2 separate regions of the Homo sapiens genome follow, and region 1 is linked to region 2. Evidence: fine-mapped expression QTL. A gene starts in region 2. The other region holds a variant in brackets. All regions are shown on one strand. Distances are from middle to middle.

Region 1 (5,192 bases), 39 kb before region 2:
GAGGTCCTTGGGATGGGTGAGTCCCTGACCTGTAATTGTCGGAGGGGAGGCACGGTGGGAGTGGTGAGTGTTGGATGGCATAGGGGTGGGATGGTGTCGGGGGCTGCTGACCTCAGCAGCGTCCCTGCTGGGGTCATGCAGGCGCAGCAGCAGCGGCACGAGACTCTGCAGCACCAGCTTCCGCAGGGGGCCGCGGAGCCCCAGCCGGAGCCCGCCCCGGCCCCGGCGCACCAGAGTCCCAAGGAGCCCGACGGCCGAGGCGCGGATTGAGTCCCGTGTCTGCGTGGGAGGGCGCAGTCAGGGCAGGCGGAGACAGAGAGGGGCTGCAAGGGTGGGAGGGGGCGGCCAGCGCGGAGCGAGGAAGCGGCGGGTCTAGGGAAGGCTGCTGACTCGGTGTGATCTGGGGACAGGGAACAGGGCCTGGAGCTGGACCTGGTTGGGAAGCCTGGAGAGCCCCTGCAGGGGGTGGGGCTTGAAGGGATGGGGTCCGGAAGGAAAAGTCGAGCGGGGAGGAGCTTGGCGGGACACGGCCCTGGAGGGGCGGAGCTGGGCGACAGCAGGCGGGAGGGGCGGGGGCGGTCAGGAGGGAAGAAATCTGGGACGGAGACACTGGGGGGACGGGGCCTGGGAGGGAGAAACTGGAGGGGCGGGGCGGAGCCTGGGAGGTCAGGGCCTGGGAGGGACAGACTGACAGACTGGGGGGCGGGGCATGGGAAGGAGAAACTAGAGGGGCGGGCGGGGCCTGGGAGGCGGGGCCTGGGAGGGAGAGACTGTAGGGGCGGGGCGGGGCATGAGAGGGAGAAACAGGAGGGGCGGGGCGGGGCCTGGGAGGGAGACTGGGGGCGGGGCCTGGGAGGGAGAGACTGGAAGGGCGGGGCGGGGCCTGAGAGGGCGGGGCCTGGGCGGGAGAGACGGGGGCGGGGCCTGGGAGGGAGAGACTGGAAGGGCGGGGGCGGTGACAGCGGCAGGGGCGGGACCCGGAGGCGGGGCGTTTGCTCACGTCGTCCAGTAGCGGAGGGAGGCGCGGTCCCAGCTCCGCGCTCAGGAGCCGCACAGGCGCCCGGGGCCGCAGCAGGAGCCTCCTCAGGGCGCCCAGCGCTGCACCCACGAGCCGCGCGTCGCCTTCGCCCAGTGCGCCCAGGAGCGCCGGCAGCAGCGTGCTCACGTGCCGCACCTGCTGGGACTCGGGGTCAGCCTCTTGCAGACCTCGCCGCGACCGGGCCAAGCCCCTCTCCACCCCTCCCCTTCTCTCACACCTTCCTGCGATTCAGCGCGAGGTGGCCCAGGCCCAGCAGGCCCAACCAGCGCACAGTGGGTTCGGGGTCTCCCTGCCAGGTGAGGAGTCGCTCCAGGATGACCTCCTCCCGCAGGAGCCGTGCGGTGGGCCGGCTCTGCAACAGCTAGGCGAGGCACATGGGGTCAGCACGCCCGCGGTCCCCGTGCAGGCCGCTGCGATTCAGGGATCAAGTCCAGGGTCACCCTTCACCACCCATCCGGGAAGCAGGCTCACCCCTGTGAAGAAGGCCATAGCCGTGAGACGCTGCGGGTCGTCCGCGCTGCGAAGCCGAGGGAGCAAGTCTGCGAAGAGGCCTCGCAGGTGGTGGTCGGCATGTGCCACCATAGCACTGGGGTGGGTGGAAATGGGAGCTCTCGCTCCGTTTGGCGGCCTTTCTCCTCGAGAAGACCCCATCCCAACACCACCCTCATGCCCCTGCCTTTTCCCTGTCCCCCTGCCCAGCACCTGGCCAGCAACGACTCTCTTCCTGGTGTGACACCCTGGGGCCCCTCCTCACCCTCCTCACCTGGCCAGCAGCAGGACGCCCTCCAGGTGGGTGTGGGCTCCCACCAGCCTCCTCCAGCCTCCTGCCTGCTCCATGCACGTGACCACCATGCGGCCTCCATCCCCGGTGAGCAGCGCCTTCAAGGCCTCCACAGCACAGCTGGTGGTGGGGACAGTGAGCAGGTGGGCAGTGGGAGCTGAGAGGGTGACAGCATGCTGGCCCGCCCCACGTAACCTGGTGTTGCCTCTCACCTGGCATGGCTATGTGGTGGCCCTCGGTGGGACAGAACCCAAATCTTGGGCATGTCGGGGGAGCACGGGCTGCGGGCCAGCTTGTGCAGCTGTGTGACCAGCGCAAGCAGCAGATGTGGGTAGAAGCCCCTCGTGGCTCCCACGCAGCCCGAAACAGCCAGCATCTCCCCAAGAGCACGTGTGGCCTGTGGAGCAAGTGGCCCACTCAGGCCTGGGGCACGCCTGGAGCTGCACTGGGCAGCAGAGGGACAGGCGTGCTGTCAACAGGATGGGGACAGCCTCAGACACGCATGGGACATTCCAGGAGCAGTTACCTAGGTGCAAACTCCCTATGCCCATCCTCCCCGCTCCTCGCCACCCCCCACCCCCGCCCCCACCCCCTGGTAATGGCTGGAGCCACCTACCGCCAGTGCCTGGGGCTCCGGCCCCGAAGCACCCTTCAGCGCCCACAGCAGTTGCACCAGCACCTGCCCATTTACACGCTGGTTACGGCTTAGGCTGCGCCAGAGCTCGGCTGCTACCCTGAGGGTTTGGAGGGGGCTGGTGTGAGACAAGAGATGGGTGGGTGTCCAGGGAATGTAGGGAGTCCCCAGCCAGGGTGGAGGCAGCCAGTAGGACTCCAGCAGGGGAGGGGCAGGAAACCCCTCCCATCTCCCCCCATCCCCAAATCTCAGAGAAACAAATGAAGGGTTAATTGTGCAGACCACAACATAGCCTATCTCAAGCTGAGCTGCAGGGTGGGGACCCACTGGGA[G/A]TCCCGTTGGGTCAGCGACAGTGAAACAAACCTGGCATTATTAAAAAGAAAAAAATTGCCACAGAGAATAAAACCAAAGATAACTTCTGGGGCCAATTAACCAAAGAGCCAGGGGTGTCCAGGCACGTTAGCCCCCCAGCCTCATTCACCCCACTCCGGAGCCAACCCCAGGACGGTCTCCAGGGGAGGCCACCCGAAGATAGAAGGTGGCTCCAAGAGAGGAGCCCAGCATCAGAAACTCTGTGGCAGGAGTGTGGGGGGAGTTTGCGGAGCTAAAAATGAGGGGAGCGGGAATGGATACGGGGCATGAGTCATCGCGGGGCTGGAATAAGGAGGCCCTGCCCCTTTTCAGCTCCCTCTTCTGGGGCCAGACTCCACCGCCAAGCGGGAAGAGGGAAGGAAGCCGCGTGGGGACCGCAGGGCCAGGACGGTTGGGTTACCGATCGGCGGGCAGAGAGCGGGGTAGCAGCGCACACACCACGTCCCGCGCATGCTCCAGGGCCAGTGCGCTCAGCACTCGCAGGGCCGCCCTCCAGGGCCTCCCCTCCGCTAGGCTGGGCACCTGCGCCAGCAGCCCACGCACCAGAGCATGCACCTGGTGGGGAAGGGGGCAGACTTCAGCAGTCAGGCCTCCTCCACCGTCCATTCCCCTCTGGCCTGCACCCCACCTCCACCCCCACCCTGATCCCGCCTGGCAGGAGCAGCCTGAAGATGGCAGGGTCAGGCTGCGCTCTCCAGGCCCCTCCCACCACCTTGGTGCCCGAACCGGCAGGATTCTGTAGGGCATGAAGTGGGTGAAGGCTGACCTGGTCCTCCAACCGCTCGCCCCGGGCCTCCAGGGCTGAGGACAGGGTGAGCACTGTCGCCTGGGTCCCTGCAAAGCCAGCCTCCTCCAGGCAGGCAGCCGTGTACAACGCGAGGTCGGCAAGAACTCCCTCCTCCCAGGAACTCTGGGGAACCTAGGGCAGGATGGGTGGGGCGTCTGAAGTGCCCAAACCTCTCCTAGCTCTCCTCCTGGTCCCTCGGCCTCCCACCTGGCTTCCTACAAAATCCCTTGCTCCTCTGTTGCTCACCAGCCTGTTTCACGCTGACCTCCCCCGGGGCCAGCACCGCCCCCCTGCCACCCCGCCTTCCACCTACCATCCACAGGACCCCCAGGCCGGTTCGCACAACATCCCTTCCCTCCCCCGTCACCTGGTGGGGCCCCTCAGGGGCTGGTTCCAGGGCACTGTTGAGGGAGCAGGGCTCGCTGCCAGCTTCAGGGACGGTGGCCCCACGTCCAGGCTCTGCCTCAGAGGGGGCGGTGAGTGCCTGGGTCTGTGGCTCAGCCTCAGGTTTGACCTCCCAGGACTTGGGCTGAGGGCCTGCGGAAGGGGGTCCCTGGGGCTGCCCCTGCCTGGCCCGGATTCCTTCAGTCAGTGCTGTCAGGGTTAGAGCCCCCACGGGAGCCTCCCGGGCCCGGCTCCGGCCCCACACACCCCCAGCCATGGCGGCCCTTGCCTGCAGCACCTGCCGCTGCTCCTCCTGCGAAGTTGTGCCCAGGACTGACCTAGAAGCCGCCCCGGGCGGGACCACGGACGGGCGTGGTGGCGTGCGCTAGCGTGAGCTTGCGGGGGCTGGGGAGCCACACGGACGTGCCTACAATGGGCCTTTGAGGGGCCCTCCTGCCTGGGCTGCTGGAGGGGAGTGGCCACCTGCAGCCTGAGTGCCTGTGGTGTGGCTCTACCCACCAGGGCCCTGAGAACAGGATCCCCAAGAGCTGGCAGATCCACGAAGAAAGGGGGAGAAGGGCCCCCACCCTGACTACCAGCCCCTGTTGACCAGGGAGCTCAGGGCAGTTGTGGACAGCTCTGAGGAGGTCCTCGCAGGGTCCAGGAGTCTGGGCCCCACCCTGAGTCGAGGCCTGATTCAGCCCCCAAGCAGCAGTCAGCTCCCCACTGGGCCTGGGGCTAGGGGCTGGCCCCGCCCCCTGCACGCTGGCTCCGCCCCCTGCACGCTGGCTCTGTCAGACACCTTGCAACAGGCATGACTGGGTGAGCTTGGGGCAGCCCGGAGGTGTGGAGGGGGCAGTGAAGACACCAGAGGAGCGGTGGCCCCTCCAGAGCTTGTGCAGGCCCCTCTGGGTCCTGGGTCCTTGGCCAAATCTCATGTTGAAACGTAATCCCCAGTGCTGGAGGTGGGGCCTGGTGGGAAGTGATTGGATCCTGGGGGCAACTTCCCCCTTTGGTGCTGTTCCCATGATAAGACTTCTCAAGATCTGGTTGTCTGGAAGTGCGTGGCACCGCCCCACCCCTTCCTCCGGCCATGTAAGACCTGCCCGCTTCCGCTTCCACCAAGATGGTAAGTTTCCTGAAGCCTCCCCAGCCATGCTTCCTGTACCTGCAGAACCACAGGCCAATTAAACCT
Region 2 (5,192 bases):
CCAGCATGCAAACACACCCATGCACATGCACGCACTCACGAGCATGCATTCATATACACACACGCAGACACATGCACTCACGAGCATACATACACATGTACACATGAATGCACTCATGAGCACAAACACATGCACACACACCCACTCGAGCATGCACTCATGTGTACACGCACGCACTCATACACGCACACACGCACTCATATACACATCTGCACAGGCACACATGCACAAGCACATACGTGCACTCACGACCACACAGGTGCACATGCACTCATGAGCATGCACTCATACACACACGCACACACATGCACTGACATACATGCACTCACCACACGTGCACACGCACACACAAGCGCACGTGCAAACGCACATGAGCACATACATACACACATGCACACGCATAGCCTCACATATACACACGTGCATATACACACACTCACGGACATGCACTCACACATGCATACACACACACACACAAACACTTTGCTTTGGCCCTCCACAACCTTACTTTCCTCCTGGCCTCTAATCTCCCTTTTCCCAGCCCAGACCAGCCAGTCTGCAAACTTCAGCTAAATAAACCACCCATCCCTGGCTCTGATAAGTGTCTTAGTGGGACAGGAGCCAAGAGCTATCCTGGGCTCCTGAGGGTATGAAGAACCTGGGCTCTATGCTCACTTGAAAGTGACATAGGTTCCTGTCTGTTGGTGCACTGGCCAGTATGTGCTGAGCTTCCACTTTTCCTGGAAAGAAAGGAAAAGGAAGAGGGGTTGGTGAAGGGGTGGGATAGGATGGCACGGAGAGGAGAGGGAGCTCACTTGGCCTCTCAGGCTCAGCCACGCCTGGCCCATCCTGGGCCCCCTCCTGGCCCCAGGAACCCAAAGCGGGATGCACCATTCACTGGGCCCAGGCAATCAGATCCACTGATTCTACTTGGCGGTCAACGCCCCTGACTGCTGCTGGGTATGGAGGCCAGGAGCTTACCTCATTGGTGAGGACACAGATCCCTGGGGCCTCTGCCTCCAGGGAAGGGAAGGCTGCCTGGAGCAGAAGAGGCAGTACCTCTGGAGGAACACCAGGCCTTGGGGGAATGTGGTGGGTACAAAGGCAGTTGATTGGCCACAGAAGGCCCAATCGGGGCCCAGGTTCTTCGAGAGGGAGAGTCTATGCTGGAATGTCTAAGAAAAGGCTAAATGCCTACTTGGTAGAAATTATCTGCTTTTGTCGGGTACGGGGTGGAAAGATTGGGTTAGATTTTGGTAAGGTCGAACAGGAAGGCACAAGTGTACACCACAACCTGAACACAGCAATTAATCATGACAGTGGCAGCCAAACACACCAGTACTAAGCTCAACACTAGACATTTATGTCTCATTTAACCTGTACAGCTCTGGGAGGCATGCGGTACTGCCAGGTTTCACAGGGAAGACTCCTGAGACTCATAGTAAGCTATTTCCCGATTGATCTTGACTCTTCTGGACCCTGAAGTATGGCTGAAGGCAGAGAGTCAAAAGTCACCCAGCTCTCCCTATCCACAATCTGCAGAGAGGCTTCTAAATGCCTGGAGGAGTATATGGTCAGCATAAATATTCCGGGTATAAAGCAGTGTTTCTCAACAGGGGATGATTTTGCCTGTCTCCTCCCCCCACCCAGGGGACATTCGGCAGTGTCTGGAGGCATTTTTGGCTGTCACAACGTGGGGGTGCTGCTGGCACAGGATGGATAGTCTGGCCCAGGTGTCCCTAGAGCCAAGGTGTCTGGGGGAGAAGCCCTGCTGCTCCCCATGAGAGGGGCTGGCGCGCAAAGAGAAAATCAGAGGCTGGAAGAGGTGAGCCTGGCCAAGGCCACGCGGCCAGGAAGCCGGCCACGGAAGCGGCACCTAGCCACGTGTGACTCAAATCTTCCCGCAGCCACGTCAAAAAAGTAAGAGCAAACAGGCGTGGCCCCGGCTGCGCCCAGCGGAGCGGAGACCCGGTTGGCTGGGCCCGCGCCCCCGGCCCCACTCTCGCGGCAGGACACCTCCCACGGGGCTGCTCCCACTCCAGACCGCAGGCCTAGCCCCGCGCCGCCCCACCTGCTCTGATGAGGCCCTGCGCGATGGCCCCCGCCATGCGGCCCGCGCCCACGAAGCCCACGCGCCGCGGAGACGGCTCCGCAGCTGCCATCTTGTTGCCTCGGACGCCGCTGCGCTCACCGCCCATCCACAGGCCGCGCCCCGCCCACAGATCTAGGCCCCACCCCCGCCCTCCAATAGGACTCGCCTCCCCGTCCCCACCCTCGCCGATTGGTTACTGGGACGGCACACTCCGGCCGGCTTTTTGTCCGCACTCTACAAGTTCGCAAGGCGCGGGAACCCCGCCTCTCGCTGCTTATTGGCCCGAAAGGGCTATGCCGCCCCTCACTGCCCATTGGCTGAGAGAAACTGGGGGCGGGGCCGTAAGGGGCGGGGCCGGCGGGGTACTCGCGCTCGGAGAGGCCGGAGGAGCGGGGAGGGGTCCCGGTCGCGCGTGCGAGGAGCACATGTTGGTTTTCCGGAGGGGAGGGGTAGCGAAGCGGGTTGCGGGGCTGGTCCAGAGCGTGCGGTCACTGAGGCCCCGCCGACCACAGACGGTGGAGCTGCGGGGAAGCACTAGGGGCGGAGACCCAGGTCACGGAGAGCAGGCCAGGGCCAGGGGCCTGAGACCGACGGAGGGGACAGTCGGGGAGGGGGTACTCGTCACTTTTAATGACACAAGGAAAACAAGGCTTGAAGATCTGAGTGCGGTTTTTTCATCATCCAATCTAAAGCTGCATGTTACATATGTTATTTTCTTTTGAAGCCTTTGACATTTTCTTTTTTCTTTTTTTTGAGACGGAGTCTCGCTCTGTCGCCCAGGCTGGAGTGCAGTGGCGCCATCTGGGCTCGCTGCAAGCTCCGTCTCCCGGGTTCACGCCATTCTCCTGCCTCAGCCTCCCAAGTAGCTGGGACTATAGGCGACCGCCACCACGCCCGGCTTATTTTTTTGTATTTTTAGTAGAGATGGGGTTTCACCTTGTTAGCCAGGATGGTCTCAATCTCCTGACCTCGTGATCCACCTGCCTCGGCCTCCCAAAGTGCTGGGATTACAGGCGTGAGCCACCGTGCCGGCCCAAGCCTTTGACATTTTCTAAGCTCTTCAGTAATGAAATCCTCTCATTGATTCAACATTCACTGTGCAGCTGCAGCCTCTGGGCCCTGCTCTGGGCCTGGGCAAGATCACCCCACGGCAGCAGATGGGACAGGCTGGACCCCACCCTGCAGCCCTGCTTGGTGGCAGTGTAGACAGACTACAGTCAGCACACACGCAGGACAGCCAGTGTGTCAAGGCTCTGAAGCAAATGAGGTGGAAAGGGACAGAAAGCCACCAGGAGGCTGCTTCGGCCACTGCAGCCGAGAAACGTGGGTGGTGGACACTTTGCACCAGCACACAGCGTCAGCAGCTGTATCTCCTGCCACCTCGGATCCTCCCAGCCCCTTCCCACAGACTCCCTGGATTTTCTCCCAGGCCCCCTGGGCCAGTGATGGCTCAGGACCAAGGCTGTGGGGAGGTGAGAGGGGCCAGAGGCATCCAGTGCCATGCCATCATACATAAGGACAAAGCTCATCATAAACAAGTGGACTGAGGCGAGGTGAAGGAGGATTGCTGGCTGAGTGCCCAGGGCCACAGTGGGTAAAAGGAGGCCCAGGGGCCCAGCCCCGTTCAGCTTCTCCGTCCCATGCCGGGCTGGGCTTCTGAGCATCAGCTGGGAGCCCTCAGCTGACGTGGACACCCAGCCAGCCAAGGCTTGTGTCCAGGGCACCTCTCTGCTCTTGGCTGGGCTTCTTCCCACTGTTCACCTGGTGGATCCAAGCAGCCACATAGGCGCCACCCTCTCCAGGAGGCCTTTCCTGAACCCCCACATGGGCAGAGCCTTTATCCACAAAGGGCTGGGGCCAGGGGATACACTGTGAACGAGGCCAACCCGTCTCCTGGAGCTCGAGGTCCTGGGGTGTCAGCGGGAGGGTTAGGGGTTGAGGCGGGGCTCCCAGAGGTTTCCAGACAAACAATCCCAGCAGGGCAGGGTGGATGCTCCGAGAGGCGCTGTGAAGGTGCCATCAGGGAAGGTGTTTTGGAGGCTGGGCCACCTCAGCTGAGGCCTAAAAGGTAGGGAGGCCTTGACCCAAGAGGGGGCCAGTCTCAGGGGAGGCCTGGAGGACACCTCGGCTTGCTGGACACAAAGGGACAGTGAGAGATGAGGTGAGCGGTTGGCTGGGTGCAGGACACACCGGTCTGGACTCAGTGCCGGGACAGGGAGGACACATCACCGCTGCCGGAATGAACGAAGAAGTGAAGCAGCAGGTCCTACCTGCAGCCAAAAGGCATCATGTGCGTGAAGACGGCACAGGGCGCCCAGGAGAGGGACCCTGAGGACGTGGGCCCAGAGTTGGGCCAGGAGCCAGGGAGGGCATCTGGGTCCTGGATGCAGTGGACCAGAGGGTTCTGGCATAGGGGCTCCCTCTGTGAGAGGCACTGAGAAAGGGGGCGACGGGCAAGCCGGGGCCTGGAGCCCAGTGCTCCTGGTCCATACCCCAGCGCCACCCTGCCTGGCTGAGGCACTGGCCCGGGAACCATTCTGGACTTTGCTGTCTCCCCTCTGAGAATGGACGGGGGCGGCGAGCAATGACACCCCACCTCTGGTGGCTGGAGCTGACCTGTCCAGCAGGCACCTGTCCCTCTCCATGGGATAAGGCCAGGTGGGGGACCCACGCCCAAGCCTGAGAGCCACAGAGAGGAGGGGCCAGGCCAGGGGAAGCCCGAGCCACCCAATCATCAGCCTCCCCTCATATCCATCCATGGGCTCAGCTCGGCTGGCTCACTAGACGTTTCTGGCCCACTAGACCAGCTTCCCCAGAGCCCTCAGGCTGAGGCAGGGAGGTCCGGGTGAGCTCAAGTTACTCAGGCCTGCAGGTGGCCACATGTGGAGGGGCTGGGACTGGCCCTGCCCTGCACATCCTTGTCCAGCTGACAGTCCACACCAGTCTCACTGCTGCCTGCCTGCTGCCTGCCCACGTGTGCCTTCCCATCTCCAGCCTCTGCGGCCTTTCCACCCCAGGGAGTCACCAGCTCTTGGGGGCTGAACAGTAAGCCAGGGGGATAGTGGGTCCTGGGACTGGCCAGGCTAGGGGGCAGTCCCTG

Alleles and levels. Alleles are on the strand shown, and positions count from the first base shown. SD is a standard deviation of normalised expression in the study named.
For the expression in fibroblasts of the gene that starts at base 2,189 in region 2, allele G in region 1 goes with a higher level than allele A (small effect, 0.12 SD a copy in GTEx).

What was found.
Region 1: its variant is fine-mapped to the expression of PYCR3 in fibroblasts (GTEx, PIP above 0.99). The same link has a PIP of 0.9 or more in hippocampus, lung and nucleus accumbens.

What each region holds. Positions count from the first base shown.
Region 1 is chr8:143,568,441-143,573,632 of GRCh38, forward strand. MROH6 (maestro heat like repeat family member 6) reads right to left here and starts at 4,332. Exons shown (of 14, transcript NM_001100878.2): 1 at 3,981-4,332; 2 at 3,593-3,745; 3 at 3,227-3,381; 4 at 2,437-2,554; 5 at 2,033-2,217; 6 at 1,803-1,940; 7 at 1,511-1,625; 8 at 1,257-1,400; 9 at 1,001-1,174; 10 at 112-279. The coding sequence starts at 4,274. It also overlaps a transcript of NAPRT not described here. RefSeq lists an enhancer at 2,841-3,690. The variant G/A (reference allele first, on the strand shown) is at 2,787.
Region 2 is chr8:143,607,387-143,612,578 of GRCh38, forward strand. PYCR3 (pyrroline-5-carboxylate reductase 3) reads right to left here and starts at 2,189. Exons shown (of 6, transcript NM_023078.6): 1 at 2,072-2,189; 2 at 676-740. The coding sequence starts at 2,162. RefSeq lists an enhancer at 3,297-3,796.